Homo sapiens: one gene and its partner. The main gene of each other region encodes a partner of the protein of the gene in region 2 in a complex. Each region holds a gene or a part of one and is shown on either strand. Other genes may lie near its edges. A codon is read from its position in the direction of its gene.

Region 1 (7,349 bases), on a different chromosome or scaffold from region 2:
GATGGTTGCAATTTCCCCTTGCATAAAGGCCCAGGGGACATTGGAGCCCACAAGAGGGCATTTTTCCCCACTGGGACAATAGACCTCTCCACTAGCTCCCTGCTGTTTGATGCTTTGTCTGGAGCAAGGGAAGCAGAACTTGTGCGAAGGGACGGACGGGCACTGCACAAAATGGGTGTCCTCCAGCCGCTCGTGGCAGAGGGTGCAGCACAGCGGGGCACTGGTTGCCAGAGAGGAGTCCGGGAGGCTGGCAGGGTGCACTGGCTCCAGTCCTCCTGTGTTGCCTGCTCCCTGGCCCCCCACCTCTCTGGGGCCCAGCCTTCTTTGGTTCATAGAGGACGGAGAGGGCGGACTGTTGCTATTCCTCCTGGTAGTGGAGTGAACCTGGTTGGCATCTTTTGAGGCATGACTGCCCCCTGCATTGTCTGCTACTAAGATCAGGGCTGCCATGGGGGACTGGCCATTCTGGGCCGCTTCAGGCGGTGTGGTCCGGTTGGAATGAGGTGAGGCAGTGGGTGGTGGCGGAGACACAAAAGAGGATGTAGGAGTCATGGGGATCTTGAGCCCCTCTGTGGATGTGGACAGCCACGGCTGGGCCTCTCCGTTGATCTTAGGGGGCCCGACTTCACCTTCTGGTTCTGGAGAGGGCTTCCTTTTCCTTGCTGTTCTTGCAACTGGAAACACAAAGAAATAAAAGGAAAAAGGTAACATAAGTGGCGGTGCACTGAAAGAGATCATTCTCTTCCTAACCCGAAACAAAAGTCGTTACAGAATTCCTCCTCTCTAAAAGCACAGACAGAAAATACTCATATACGAGTTTCAGGTGCACATGCAACTTAAAACCTTCAGGCGTACGGGATTCTGAGGCAGCAGACTGATTTAAAATGGAGCCACTGAAAATGACACGCTTGTAACTGCCTGTTTGTACACATGCACAAAAGTACCCTCGTTTGCACTCAACATGTGACTGCTAATGTCCCCCAATAGGTTAAAAGGTGACTGGTGCCCTCATGCTCCCATCCAAGAATGTGCTGGGAAAGGAAAACCCCGTGTCAGAGCGTATCAGCCCAGTCTGACTCATCTCTGTTATGCTGCTTCAGCACATGAACACGTTGCCACCAAGCACTGGTTCCGCCTCAGGCAGATCAGGAAGTGGGGTGTTTGTTGTTTCTGGGCTGGGGTAAAATGGTGAATCCAAAGAACCACCCTTCCTCTGCTCTCCGTCCCCTTTTCTCCCCTAGACCCCCTCACTTCACAGCCGCCCCTACCTGCTTTAGACCCGTTGGCCCCGTTGGCCTCGAAACCCAACAACCTGCCTGCAGTCAGGGCCGGCTCCTTCTTAAACTTGCTCTCGAAGGGCCCCGAGTGGCCGTGCTGGTGCAGCGCCAGCAGCGTGTCGCGCACGGTCTTGGGCCTGTTGACCCAGTCCTGCTCTCCAGACCCGCGGCTCTTGCCCGCACCTTCCGCGCTCAGCTCGGCGGCCCCGGCCGCGGTGGACAGGCTGTCGGCCGGGCCCCGGTGCGCAGGCGGCGGCGGTTGTTTCTCCTTGGCTGCCGCCTCACGCTGCTCGTGCTCCACGGCAGCGCTGCTCGACACGGATGCCGGCCGCTTGTGGGCGCCCAGATCGGTGGGCTGCGCGGAGCCCAGGCTGGCGGCCGCGGTTCCGGACACCGCGGCTAAGGAGGCGGCAGCGCGGCCGCCGAGGCCGAGCGCGGTGGGCAGCGGCGTGGCCGAGCCGTTCATGAGCGGCACCAGGGTGGGCGGCACCGCGTGGCCGCGCCGCGGGTTCGGGCTCTGGCGATTCAGCTCGGGCGGCTCCTCTAGCTTGGAGAAGCCGTTGGGCACCAGGATGCCGTTCACGGGCGGCGGCTGCGGCGTCGGCGGCTGGGCCAGGCTCGCTGCCGGGCGGCTGCTGCCGAAGTCAGAGCCGAGGCGCGGGGGCCTCTCGGCCGCGGCCGCCAACGGGTAGCGCTCCAAGGCCTGCGGCGCGCGCGGGGCCGCCTCGGGGCCGCCGTGGCCAAGCTGCTGCTGCTGCTGCAAAAGGATGTCCTTGGCGGAGAGCGGCGGCGGCTTGGCGGCGGCCGAGGCCGCGGCGCCGGGTGGGGAGCGACCCTCCGGGAAGCAGCCGTGCGCCCGCTTGAGCTGCCGCGCCGTCTCGATGACGAACTCGACGCGGTCGGCGCCCTCGTAGTTGACGCAGCCGCGGCAGACGGGTTCGGTGAAGTCCCAGATCATGGCCCAGGGCATGCGGGGCAGGTCACACAGGTAGCACGACTGCCGCCGGGACGCGGCCGCCACCGCCACCGCCGCGGCCATGTCCGAGGAGCCCGCGACGCCGGAGGAGGAGGCGGAGGAGGAGGAGGGGGCGCCGCCGCCGCCCCCCACCGGCACCACGCGCGCCCTCCTCCCCCCCCAACCCCGCGTCTCCCCCACCAGCGGCGGCGGCGGCCGCAAAGGCGGCGGCGGCGGCGGCAAAGCCCGCGAAGGCTCGGCGCCCGCGCAGCGCCCCCGGTGCACGAGGGGCGGCGGGCGCGAGGTGAGGGGCTGCAGCCGCGGCAGCAGTTCCCCCCGGCCGGCCCGGGCACGGGCGGGCGGCGCGGCGCGGCGGGGCGGCGGGCGCGGCGGTGGGGGCTCGGCCGGAGCCGCGGCGGGCCTCCAGACCGGGGCGAAGACGGGCCGCGCGGGCGCGGGGGAGCGCAGCAGGTCGCGGCGGCGGCCGGCACGGAGTGCGGGGCGGGGGGCGGGGAGGCCGGGGGGGCAGGGGGCGGGGGGCGGCCGCCGGGGCAGGCTCAGCCCGAGCGGCGGGGCATGCCGCGCCGGGGTGGCGGCGGCCGGGCGGCGTGGAGCTCGGGCGCGGCGCGGGCCCCGGGTCGCTCCGCCGCTCTCTCACAGCTCCTGGCGTCGCCGCTCTCCAGCGCCAGCGTCAGCGGCCAGCCCGCCTCAGCTCCGCCGCCGCCACCGTCGCTGCTGCTGCTGCCGCCGCGACCGCTCCACTTCTACAGACTTGATTCTTCGACAGTCTCGCACGGCGCCTGCGCGGGCCCCCTCCCCTCGTGCGCGTGCCCGCCCTCCCGCGCGCGCGCTCCCCCTCCCCCCGCGCGCCGAAGGAGCGCTGCCGGGAGAGCCGGCTACGCGGCGCCCGCCCGCCCGCGGGGCAGCGCAGCAGCGCAGCGCCGGTGTTCCCTTCGGAACACCGCGCAAAGTGATCGAGTGCTTTTCCTCCACTTTCCCTCACTTCGCGCCCCACCCGGCTGTCCCGACCACCCTCAGGATGTTTTCCTCTGGTGTGCCTCTGGGCCAAATCGTGCTAAAAATCATTTTTTTTCTTTTATGCAAGGACACTTTGTCACTTGGTTTCCGTCAGTCTCCTGAGAATGGGGAATTTAGGTCTAGCGTGGTTCACAGTTCTGGTTTTTTAGGAGTTATACTTGAAAGCTCAATGTCGGACACATAGCATGAAATCCGTCACTGGTGCTTTGCATTTGTCTTGGAAAGGACATACGCCCCGCCTGTCCCTTTTACTAACTAGGGAGACTGTGAATATTCCCAAGCCCAGCACCACGTGCACACGCCGCCAGCTGGCTCGCGCGTTTTCCACGGAGCCCTCTGGAGGGGAGGGAGCGCGGTTCGGACTAGCCTCTCCCGAACACCAAGTGCCGCTCTTAGCCCCGTCCAGCCCGCCCTGTTCATCGGGGGCCTCGCCGCGCCAGTCGCCCCGGCTGCCTTATGTAGGTATGCGCGGCGGGCGCGTGACGTGGGCGCGGGGCCGTGGGCGGCCGCCGCCGCGAGTGCGCACGCTCCGCGCAGACGTGCCTCGGCGCCGCTGGCACTAGGGCCTCGTGGAACGAATGCACATTCCAGGGATCCGGGGTCTACGGCCAGCGCGGCCGCGTCACAGCGCAGGCTCCACCCCCTTCGGCGAGTCTGGGCGTCGAGGCGCCGCCCCCGGGCCCGAACTTGGACTCGAGGTGGCGGGAGGCGAGGGCGCGAGTGGGGGGGGGGGGGGTCCTGCTCGCCTCCGCGAGGTTCCCGAGGGCCGTGGGGGCGACCGGCTGGCTGGCTGGCCCGCCGTCCCGCAGGGCGGGCCGCCGACGGAGGCGGACTTTTGCCCTATATGCCACCCAGGCCGGGATGAGCCCGGCCTGCAGGTCTGCCACCGTTGGCAGCCTCAGACTCAGCCCAGACTGAATTGAATGTTTGAGTTTCGCACTTTTATCGGGAGGAGGAGCTAGTGTGTGTTATGGTAAATCACTTTGGGCTGGTCGTTAGTCTCCCTAATACACGTAGGCTTAGTCGCTCTTCAATTGGGACTTTTACACTTAAGCTCTTTAAGGGCGGCCTCTGGAGCTGCTTTTGTTGGGAACACAGGCCCACAACTCTCCCTTGAGACTGGAATGAGCTGGTTAAGTGTGGGAAGAACAGGGTACTAATTATATTATCTTTCCTACAACTGGATTGGTAGGTGGAGAGAAAAAAAAAATCATGCTGACGTTTCTCTCTAGTCGTTGCTATTGAAAATACCAGGTTGCTTCAAAGGATTAACCACAAGGAAGAGGAAAAACACCCTTAGAGAAACAGTGGAGGGAGCTGCTTAAAACACATGAAAAAACCTGTTCGAAAATGGCACAGAAAACGTAATGTCAGACCTAAATGTTTTTACAGGCTAACCTTGAATGTCTTTTGGGGATTTCCATAGAAGGTGCGCCTGTTTTAAAGGTCTCTGCATCTGTTCCTGGATCTTGCCCTGCAATTGCAATCCTGCCTCACCCTCTCCAAGCTGGGAGAATGGGGCCTGTCCAGATCCTTCCCGGGAGTAGCTGGTGCCAGCGGGTTTGGTCACTCCCAGGCCCTGCTGTTGCACACCGCTTTCAAGACCTGTCCCTTTGGTCACCCTCCTCAGAGACCCTGTGACACTCATTCCAGTACATGCCTTCACCCACTGCGTCACTGCCCAAAGGGGATGAAGTCCAGTCCTTGTGCTGCAGAGAAATGAACCAACTCATCGCCCCCAAGAGACGGCCCCACTAAGCATTGACTGAAACATACTAAAAGAAAACACAACTCACCATTAGAGTTGTGGCCTAATTATACTCATTTCTCTGCAAGCTGGTACTGTAATGGCCTCAAGGGGAGAGCCTGCCACTCCATCCTAAAATAGAATTAGAGATAGAAATTCTGCCACGATACTAAGATCTTTGCAAAACGGAGCTTTTCTTCTCCAAAGGAAGAGCATTTCCTTCTTATTTTACACTGCCAGTTTCATGTCGAAACTGAGTTGTTGTAACTTCCCTAATGAAATGCCCGATGGAAAATGGAAGGGCTATTTTAGTTCTGGGCTCGATCCGGAATCAAGGGGGTTAAGGCTGGATTCAGGGCAGCAATTCCTTATATTGTATCAGAAGTCTTTCATGCAGCCTGGCCTTTCATGTAGCTCTGAAGCAGCTTTATCGATGTATGCTAAGTAAACATAGCTTTGTTTTTGTCTTCCACCCACCGCTCCCTCCCGGCACAGACTGGAGTTGGATCCCATCCAAAGCGGCTGCTGCAGCAGTTACAGCCGCCTCCTCCACACACAGGAGCAGGGTTTCTAGGGTGAGGCAATGCGTCTGCAATTCGCAGAGACAAGGCAGGAATTGTAATTGTAGTTCATCATGTGATGACTTATGAAAGAGGAAGTTGGTATGTTTTAGTCACGTAGACTCTGCCCTCTTGCTTGAGGCACCAGGTCCTCTCAAAAGAGAATTATGATCATCTTTGCCACCCAGAGTCAAGGTTACCGGGTTGGCTGCAGTGTGCTCCTGCACATTCATATACGGACAGGCAGGCAGATGCTGGGCCAAGTGTCGGCGACGCAGCGGGATGAGGCTGGCTTTTCACCAGAACACTAAAATGTTGCAATTTGTCTTAAGGACTAAAGGAAATATTCTATGGAGAACACTCCTGCTGAGACTAGACAAACCAACAGTCCTTTCCAGCTCTAATTTCTGAGAGTTGTTTTTTTTTTTAAATAAAAATCACAGTGTAGGAGTAAAAGGAAAGCCATTCAGTATGACACTATCAGAAAAGCAGGAATAAGGAAGTGGCTTGGAAGGCAAACCTAAGAGAGCAGTTGTAAGCGATAGCTCAATGGGTAGAACTAATGTGACCTTCCGACACTGAGATTGAAACGGGCTTCTACTGCGTGAACGTTAAACATCTAAAATCTGAATCTGGTTTCCAGAGCTTACTCCAGTCAAGCAGCTATTAACACACGGAAGCCCTGAACTGACAGTCTATAGAGCAGTGTAAAGAAACGGTTCCTACAAGAGTACCTTATTGGAACTTTGCCCCCAGGTTATGCAGCTGCAAGAGGGGTGCAACCCCATTCCCCCAGCAGCTTGTGGGTGCTGTCCAGGAGATAGATGGTATTCCTAGGAACTGCTGAGTTCGTGGCTTTCACCCTCTATCCAGAGGTGGAATCACAGCCTTCATTCTTTAGAGTGCAGTTTCCTTAAATAGCATGATGTTGCAACCATGCTAAAGCTTCTTAAACTCTGATCTTGGCGTATTTGAAGAAGAGAAAAAATGCAGCCACATTTCATCTGGATTTCTGTGGACATCATTGCGGGTTTCTTCAGCTTTGGCAAAAGTGTCGTAAGGTTTGAAGAGCACACGTGATATTCAGGGCTTTTCCAATTTTTTAAATAAGTTATATATATTTGAACACATTTGTTTATATGAATATATCTACACATACTATGGAGCACCATGACATAAATGAACCTTCTGTAATTGATATGAGAGTCTTCCTTCTTAGTAACAGCATTTTATGAGACAATCTTACTGTTTTTCAAATTGCAAATATTCTTTTTTAGAAATACTTTCCCTCTGTTTGACCTCTCTCTATAGCCTACCTCCCCTGTGCACAGAGCATACAGATATTAAAGAGACTTTTGCATGTGGAGGAGATAAACTCTCTGTGGAGGGTCTAAGAATCAAGCCAGATAAAATCACAGGAGCTCTTAATCATCCACATATTGTACACAGAAGCTGTTAGTCGGCAGCCTATATGTCAACGTATGTATAGGTCCCTATTTAGAGCAAAATTTGGGATCTTGATGAAGGTTAAATACTCACTGTGTCAGAATTTAAAGAGCTAAGTGAGAAACAGACAAAATAGACAAAGGAGAGATTGAGGTCACACACTTGCTCAGTCTGCAAGGAAATTTGTAGAACTGGAAGGGATTCAACAGCCATTTGATGCCAGTAAACCTCCTATTGACTTTTTGGAAAAAGCAGGATGAAATGCACTTTTCTGGAATATCTGGATGTGGGTTTAACTTAGAATATTTAAAACACTCACTGAAGCC
Region 2 (7,238 bases):
GGTCAGGAGTTTGAAACCAGCCTGCCCAACATGGTGAAACCCATCTCTATTAAAAATACAAAAATGGGCCGGGCATGGTGGCAGGCACCTGTAATCCCAGCTACTCAGGAGGCTGTGGCAGGAGAATGGCTTGAACCCGGGAGGCAGAGGTTGCAGTGAGCCAAGATCGCGCCATTGCACTCCAGCCTGGGGGACAAGAGCGAGACTTCATCACCAAAAAAAAAAAAAAAAAAAAGACCAGACACATGGTTTATTTTAGAGTAGAGCTATGTCTCATACAACTAAGGAATATGGTATAATTTAGCTGGTAAGAATAATTAACCATCCGCATCTTAATTTTTAAAACTAAAATGTCATAAAATTAATTTGTCCCTTATTCTTAAGGGGCATGAAACTTGACTGTGCCCTAAATGAAATCAAATGTTGCCTACCAACAGTACATTCCATTTTCCAAACAACTTCCCTGGAATGCTGGGGAGCTGATATGTTTAAAACGAATATTCTCCAAGTCCAAGTGTTGGATTTTAAAGAACCATAACCTTTCCAACTTTTCCTACAAAAAAATCCCGTGTGTGATTTATGCCCATCTTCAAAACACCCTCTGGAGTTCAGACCAGATGTGTGCAGTGTTTACACTGAGAAAACCACTAGGACATCAACAATTCACTATAAACACCACTCAAATTTTGCTGTGCTTTCCTTCATTTCCTCTGTATTTATTCTGGTGTTAAAATAATGTTAACTCTCATAATAAGGAAAATAGGAGCAGATGTTTAAACCAAACAGACTTCAGCCCATTATCCCATATAGCTACTCAATCTTCAAAATCAAAGTTTCTTCCTCCCAAATACCGAGAGAGAAGAGCAGAGCAGAGCACTCTAGTTTCCTGGGTGTTGCATGCTACACAACAACTCGACCTGGGCTCGCTGTCCGTAAGTTGGTCCTCACCAATCGGAGACAGGAAAAACTAATCTGGTATCAATTTCCTAACAATCTTATATTTCTCTCTTAGGCCATTATGTTTTGTTTTTAAAATATCGTATTACTTGTTGGCAAAGACAATACAACAGAAATTGCCTCAGAAGTTTTTCTTTCTTGTTGGGGGAAGCGGGGATGGTTAAAAAAAAAAAAAACAAGAAAAACAAAACCCTGACTACAATGTGTGAATGTCACGGGAAACAAGCCCAGCAATGGCTGCTTACGGCTTTCTAAAGTCGGCTGCCTTTTTTAAGTGAGTTCAGAAGCAAGATGTTACTTAACACATCAGATGCAAAGAAAGAAATTCACGAAAATTCTCATAGCAGGAACTAGTAGGAGTAAAGAAAAACAAATACTCTTTTTAAAAAACGTTAAATATGAGATCCTCATCCATAGAGTTTTAAAAAACAACGTGAATGAGGGTTGTTGTTGTTTTTTTTCCTTGAAGGGGAAAAATACTCTTGAAAGGGTGAGTTTTCAACTGATTAGGAAACAGGCCTGAAGTTTTTAGATTAAAAAAATACAAGTGAATCACCCTCCCAAGTTTTTGTAACTGTTTTCTTTTTCAAGAGAAATGTCCCGTGTATTATTGGAGAAAAAATGGAAACTGCTCCTGCTGAATGAGAAAGAGAAGAGTCCCGGATGTGTGTGTGGTTACAACAGAAAACACTCTTCCTGCCAGGCCGAACTCCCCCGGAGATGCCCTCGGCGGCAGACCCAGGGCCATTGCCACTTTTTCAAATCGCACGTAGAGGATGTCCGAGGGCTTAAGAAATAGATTTTTCTCTGACTGCTACCAGAGACAGTTGGAAATACAAGACAGTGGGGGAAGCACCTCGCGGGCAGTAGGAGGTAATAAATAACAGTTCGGCGCGGCTCTCTCTTTTTCAGGGCAGGCTGGGGGTCGGGGTGTTGTGTAATCGCTCCCACAGGGAGCGGAGCGCGAGGAACACCCCCCAGTGTCAGCGCTCCCCGGGCTGCACAGGAAGCGCCAGCGAGACAAAGAGCCCGCCTGTGCTCGCTGACACGGTGCCCTTCCGGCCCCACGCGGGAGAGGGACATTCTCCGCTGTTTGGGACGCTCACTCGCGAGCACAAAAACTCGCTGTAACTTTGGCTCCCCCTCCGTGAGCTGCAGGGCGCCGTGGCCCACAGCAGGGTACAGTAGACGGTGCAATCCTTACCAGCCCCTCCCCCAAAGAGGCTCAACTTTTACCGGCGTCCTACAAGTCCTTCCCCTAAAGACAATATTAACGGAAATCAAAAATACATACATTTTAAAGAGTTAAAAATGTGAGGCGCGAGTACGTTGCAAGCAACGAGCAAACTTTGAAGGGTTTCTACTTCACTGCCTCCCCGTCCAGCCCCCTCCACCGCCCCCCGCAGCCTGAGATCCGAACACACTCGGTGCCGAACCGAACCTAAGAAACGCCGGCCTTTCAAGTGCCCTACACCCCGGAGGAGGACAGCGGGCGCTTAGAAGGCAGGCACCCAGCACACTGAGGAGGAGTGGCCGGGACGAGCAACGGGCAGTAATTCTACAACGGGACATCTACCTTCGTAGCACAGAATGCCGATATTGTTGTTCATCTTGTCCAAGTACTGATAGTTCAACAGGTCCATCTTCATAAATAGCATTTATTGGGCTAGCAAAGAAAACCAGCTCTTTGCTTTTGCCCCAAAAGAGTTAAGTTTCAAAAATCAATTGTTGCTGAGTAGCTCCTGGCTCTTCAACTTCACAAAGGCAGAGGCCCAGCCTCAGACTATCAAAACAAAGTATGCAAAAGTTAAAAAAAAAAAAATCAGGCACAAAAAAATCGAGCTCACACGAAACCCTTCAAGGGCTTACTGGTAGACGGTGTATGTACTGTATCCCCGATCGAGTATGAAAACAGCGTTTCAGAAGTCCTTACAAGTCCTTCCTGGAAATGGAAAAGAGTGAAAAAGAGAAACGCGCAGCCCGTTTCCTAGGACAAAGCGGCGCCGGCCCCTCTCACAGCCCGCTGCAAGCCGGCAGCGCTGACATGAGGGCTATGCTTGGCATGACTCCTATGCCGCCGCTTCCTCTTCCCGCAGGAGGCCGAGCATGCTCACTGCGCCGCGCTGCCGAGGCAGGGAGGGCTTCTGCACAGGATCAGCCTCTCAATGTAGCAAGTGTTGGAAAGAAAGAGAAAGGGGAGGGGGAGAGACTCTAGAGACGGGGCCTTGGCAGAGTGGCTCTTGACAGGAAGCAGCCAAGCCGCTGCAAAACCGTAGGAGGAAAAAAGAAAACCCAGGAAGTTTCTTTTTCAGGAGCTAAGTACAAAGTAAAAAATCCATCATGGAAGCAAACTCCCATGGAATGCAACTTTCGTGAAACTTCATGTTGGGGTTTCGGAAACCCAAAGTGCTAGTGATGCATAAGCCATATATATATATATAGTGTCTTTGTTTCTTTTAAAGATTGTTTTATAATATCCATTTACACTTTAACTGGATATTTAAATTTCTGATGTTAATGTTACATATAGCTTCTTCCATAATCCCCATAACAACTGAGATGGACAGGGCAAGGAGGGTATCACCCTTTCACAGCAGAGGAAACAGGTTCAGATGGATTAAATGACTGGCCCACAGCCCCCAAAATAGTTGACAGAACTACTTTTAAAGTGTTTTTTCCCACCTAATGTTATAATTTTATTTAAAAAAACGAGGGGGCCGGGTGTAGTGGCTCACACCTGTAATCCTAGTCGAAGCAGGCGGATCACTTGAGGTCAAGAGTTCAAGACCAGCCTGGCCAGCATGGTGAAACCCCATCTCTACTAAAAATACATAAATTAGCCTGGTGTGGTAGCGCACGCCTGTAGTCCCAGCTACTCAGGAGGCTGAGGTGGGAGAATTGCTTGAACCTGAGAGGAGGAGGATGCAGTGAGCCAAGATCGTGACACTGCACTCCAGCCTGGGCAACAGAGTGAGACTTTGTCTCAAAAAAAAAAAAAAAAAAGAAAAGAAAAAAAGGAGACAAGGAGAGGAGAAGAGATGGAAGAGTGTTTAAGCAAATAGGGCTATAATATCAAAAATTAAAAGTGTACTTGAAATTATAGAGGGAAAGGGTAAAATTATTTTCATTTGGCATGTATGTCACCCACCTGTGTGTAAGAAGCTAGTGGCATGCAGCTGTACTATTTGCTATTGGAAGAACTTGGGGCTTAAACTTTGATTACCCAGTGCCTAGCACAACCAAGTTCAGGTGCCCAAAAACTGTTTACTGAACGAGTGAACCACTGAATGTTCAGTTTTCAGCACATCAAGAACGTGTTAACAAAATAGAAAAAAAAAAAACAAAAACTAAACATTTGAATTACTATTCTAAAAATATATTTTTAATATTCCAAAATAATATTTGAATAAATAATTTGAAGGAGTTGTATGTTAAAAATCCAGCAATAGGCCAGGCGCGGTGGCTCACGCCTGTAATCCCAGCACTTTGGGAGGCCGAGGCGGGTGGATCATGAGGTCAGGAGATCGAGACCATCCTGGCTAACACGGTGAAACCCCGTCTCTACTAAAAATACAGAAAATTAGCCGGGCGCGGTGGCGGGCGCCTGTAGTCCCAGCTACTCGGGAGGCTGAGGCAGGAGAATGGCGTGAACCCGGGAAGCGGAGCTTGCAGTGAGCCAAGATTGCGCCACTGCAGTCTGCAGTCCGCAGTCCGGCCTGGGCGACAGAGCGAGACTCCGTCTCAAAAAAAAAAAAAAATCCAGCAATAGTTGCATTGGGTTTATTAGGCACACTCATGGCAAGGTGTTCTAATGAAATCTTACTTGGGAGTCCGGATGCGGTGGCTCACGCGTGTAATCCCAGCACTCTGGGAGACTGAGACGGGCGGATCACTTGAGGTCAGGAGTTTGAGAACAGTCTGGCCAACATGGTGAAACCCTGTCTCTACTAAAAATACAAAAATTAGCCGGGCATAGTGGCATGTGTCTGTAATCCCAGCTACTAGGGAGGCTGAGGCAGGAGAATTGTTTGAACACGGGAGGCAGAGGCTGCAGTGAGCCAAGATTGTGCCACTGCACTCCAGCCTGGGTGACAGAACAAGACTCCGTCTCAAAAAACAAAACAAAACAAAAAAACTATATGACATCTAAATACTAAATACTGTTGCCGTCATTGCTGCAACAGTAATCACTGGGGTGACATCAGGGGAAGTAAGTAATAGGGGAATCAAGATTTCACAAGCTTTCATTTATAAGAATATTTATTGACACTATATTACATGTAATAAGCTATAGTGAAAGATATGTATCCTATCAATTGTAATTAAAATACTTAATGGTATTTGGTGGGGAGGGTTGAAGAAAACTCAAAACTCGTAACATCCAGTATACATGAGATCATTGCACTGAAAACAAACAATATCAGGTATCAGATTTAAATTTAACTGATAGTTTTGGAGTACTCTTACTGTGCTACGTTTTTACATAAATTCTCAATCAGAAAACTTTATCCATCATTGTCCCACATGGAAGAGAGGTGGCTGCACATTAGAACCAGGGGGGAGCTTTTAAAAATCTTGCTGCTGAGGTTGCATCCCCAACTCATCTGAGGTGGGAACCAGCAGCAGTAGCTTCTAAAGTCCCAGGTGATTCCAATATGCAGTCAAGGTTGAGAACCATTGCTTTCATCTAGGGAGGAAAAAAAAAAAAACCCTGCCTTAAGATATTTCATTTTATTCACTTATTTTGACATGAAGAATTTTTTTAATAGTAATTTAAGCAAATGATTCAAACAATACCATTGTAGAAAATGAATAAAATATTTGGTAACGTCCCTTAAGGGACTCAGCATCACTTAGAACAGCAGTTCTCAGCCTCCGGGTGGCAACCATTTTCGTGGACACCGTCTCACAGGTCTACCTTGACTATTGTAACATTCCCAGCCACAGCCACCACGTCTTTCCCGCTGATCCGGGAGGCTAGCACGGTGCTACCCAAGTGTGATCCAGAGGGGTTCGAGCACCAGGTGTTCCTAGTCCCCAAAAGCTAGATACAGAAACGGAGAATGAACATTTAAAACTTTTATAGCAATTCGATAGACTAATTTTATGTCTCTCAAATCTTAATATTAAAGAAATTTGAGGGCTGTAGTTTTCGTATTTCTAGTTATAGGGCTGCATTACATTTTATAAACTATCAGTCTGCAACAAAGTCTTGGGGAAAAATGAAACAAACCTGGTTTCACAGAGAAGCTTGTGCTCCAGAGGGGCCAGCTACAACAGCCCGCCTCTGCAGGCTGGGAGCGCCTCCTGGACCGGCTCTAGGCCTTTCCATCCCAGCTCCTGACAACTTTCACCTTAGTTTCAAGCACACTGGATGACCTGCAGTGAGTTATTCCACAAAGCACATCAGTATGCTTCTCGGTGTGCAGGACGTCTCTTCTTTCCCAACCTGTCTACTCAGCAAACATCCACTCTTCCTTGAGACTTGTCAGAAAGCCCCTCTTGTCCTGTGAAATCTCCCTACGATCCCATCCTACCATCTCCTCACACCCTACGCCAAGCTATCCTTTTACAGGGTAAGTAGTCCTTATCCAAAATACTTGGACCAGAAGTGTTTTGGATTTCGGACCTTCTTGGATTTTGGAATAGTTGCATTATACTTACCAGTTGAGCATCTCTAATTTTAAAGTCTGAAATCTGAAATGCTCCAATATGAGCATTTTCACCTGAATGTTGTGTCAGCACTCAACACTGTTCAGATTTTGGAGCATTTTTCATTTCAGATTTTTGGATTAGGACGCTCAACCCATACCTTATATGTGCTTCTTTCCTAGCCTAGATCTTCGGAGCAAGGACTATGCCTTCCTCACCTTTTCGAGGTCAGTCTGGCAGAAGTCTGGCAGAAGCCTGGCGCATGGTAGGCCATCAATAAATACCAGCTGAATAAAATCAGTAAACATCTAAACGGCAGATTCTTCATTTCCCCATCCCTACTTCCAGCACACTCTGGATTATCTTACTCGATGTCATTAGGTGGCTGTCAACATCTCTTGGAGACCACAGGTCCTTGCCTTTAAGAAACACCATGTAGATTCTGATTGTACTTCAGGGTACAATCAGCTCATCCATAAAAAAAAAAAAATACTAGAAAATATCAATCCTTCTCAGATTCATTCATAGGATAATATATTCATAATTAAAGTAGCAACAGGATAGTTTTGTAGGGAATTGGAAAGATGGGTCTAAATTTTATCCACACACACAAATGAGATGGGAAAAGC

What was found.
Region 1: the proteins of VGLL4 (region 2) and IRF2BP2 are in contact, whole or in part, in a crystal structure (PDB 8YTF), measured with the Homo sapiens proteins. Residues at the interface, in NP_055482.2 of Homo sapiens: Arg161, Ser163, Val164, Ile165, Thr166; in NP_892017.2 of Homo sapiens: Thr516 (codon at 177), His517 (codon at 174), Phe518 (codon at 171), Val519 (codon at 168), Gln520 (codon at 165), Pro522 (codon at 159), Phe531 (codon at 132), Leu557 (codon at 54), Trp564 (codon at 33), Ala565 (codon at 30), Phe566 (codon at 27), Met567 (codon at 24), Glu570 (codon at 15), Thr573 (codon at 6), Ile574 (codon at 3).

What each region holds. Positions count from the first base shown.
Region 1 is NC_000001.11:234,607,179-234,614,527, forward strand, and holds the start of IRF2BP2 (interferon regulatory factor 2-binding protein 2), read right to left. Parts: upstream 3,001-7,349; 5' UTR 2,317-3,000; coding exon 1,269-2,316; intron 675-1,268; coding exon 1-674. UniProt on the Homo sapiens protein: Acts as a transcriptional corepressor in a IRF2-dependent manner; this repression is not mediated by histone deacetylase activities. Represses the NFAT1-dependent transactivation of NFAT-responsive promoters.
Region 2 is NC_000003.12:11,640,904-11,648,141, forward strand, and holds the start of VGLL4 (transcription cofactor vestigial-like protein 4), read right to left. Parts: upstream 3,013-7,238; 5' UTR 2,616-3,012; coding exon 2,534-2,615; intron 1-2,533. UniProt on the Homo sapiens protein: May act as a specific coactivator for the mammalian TEFs.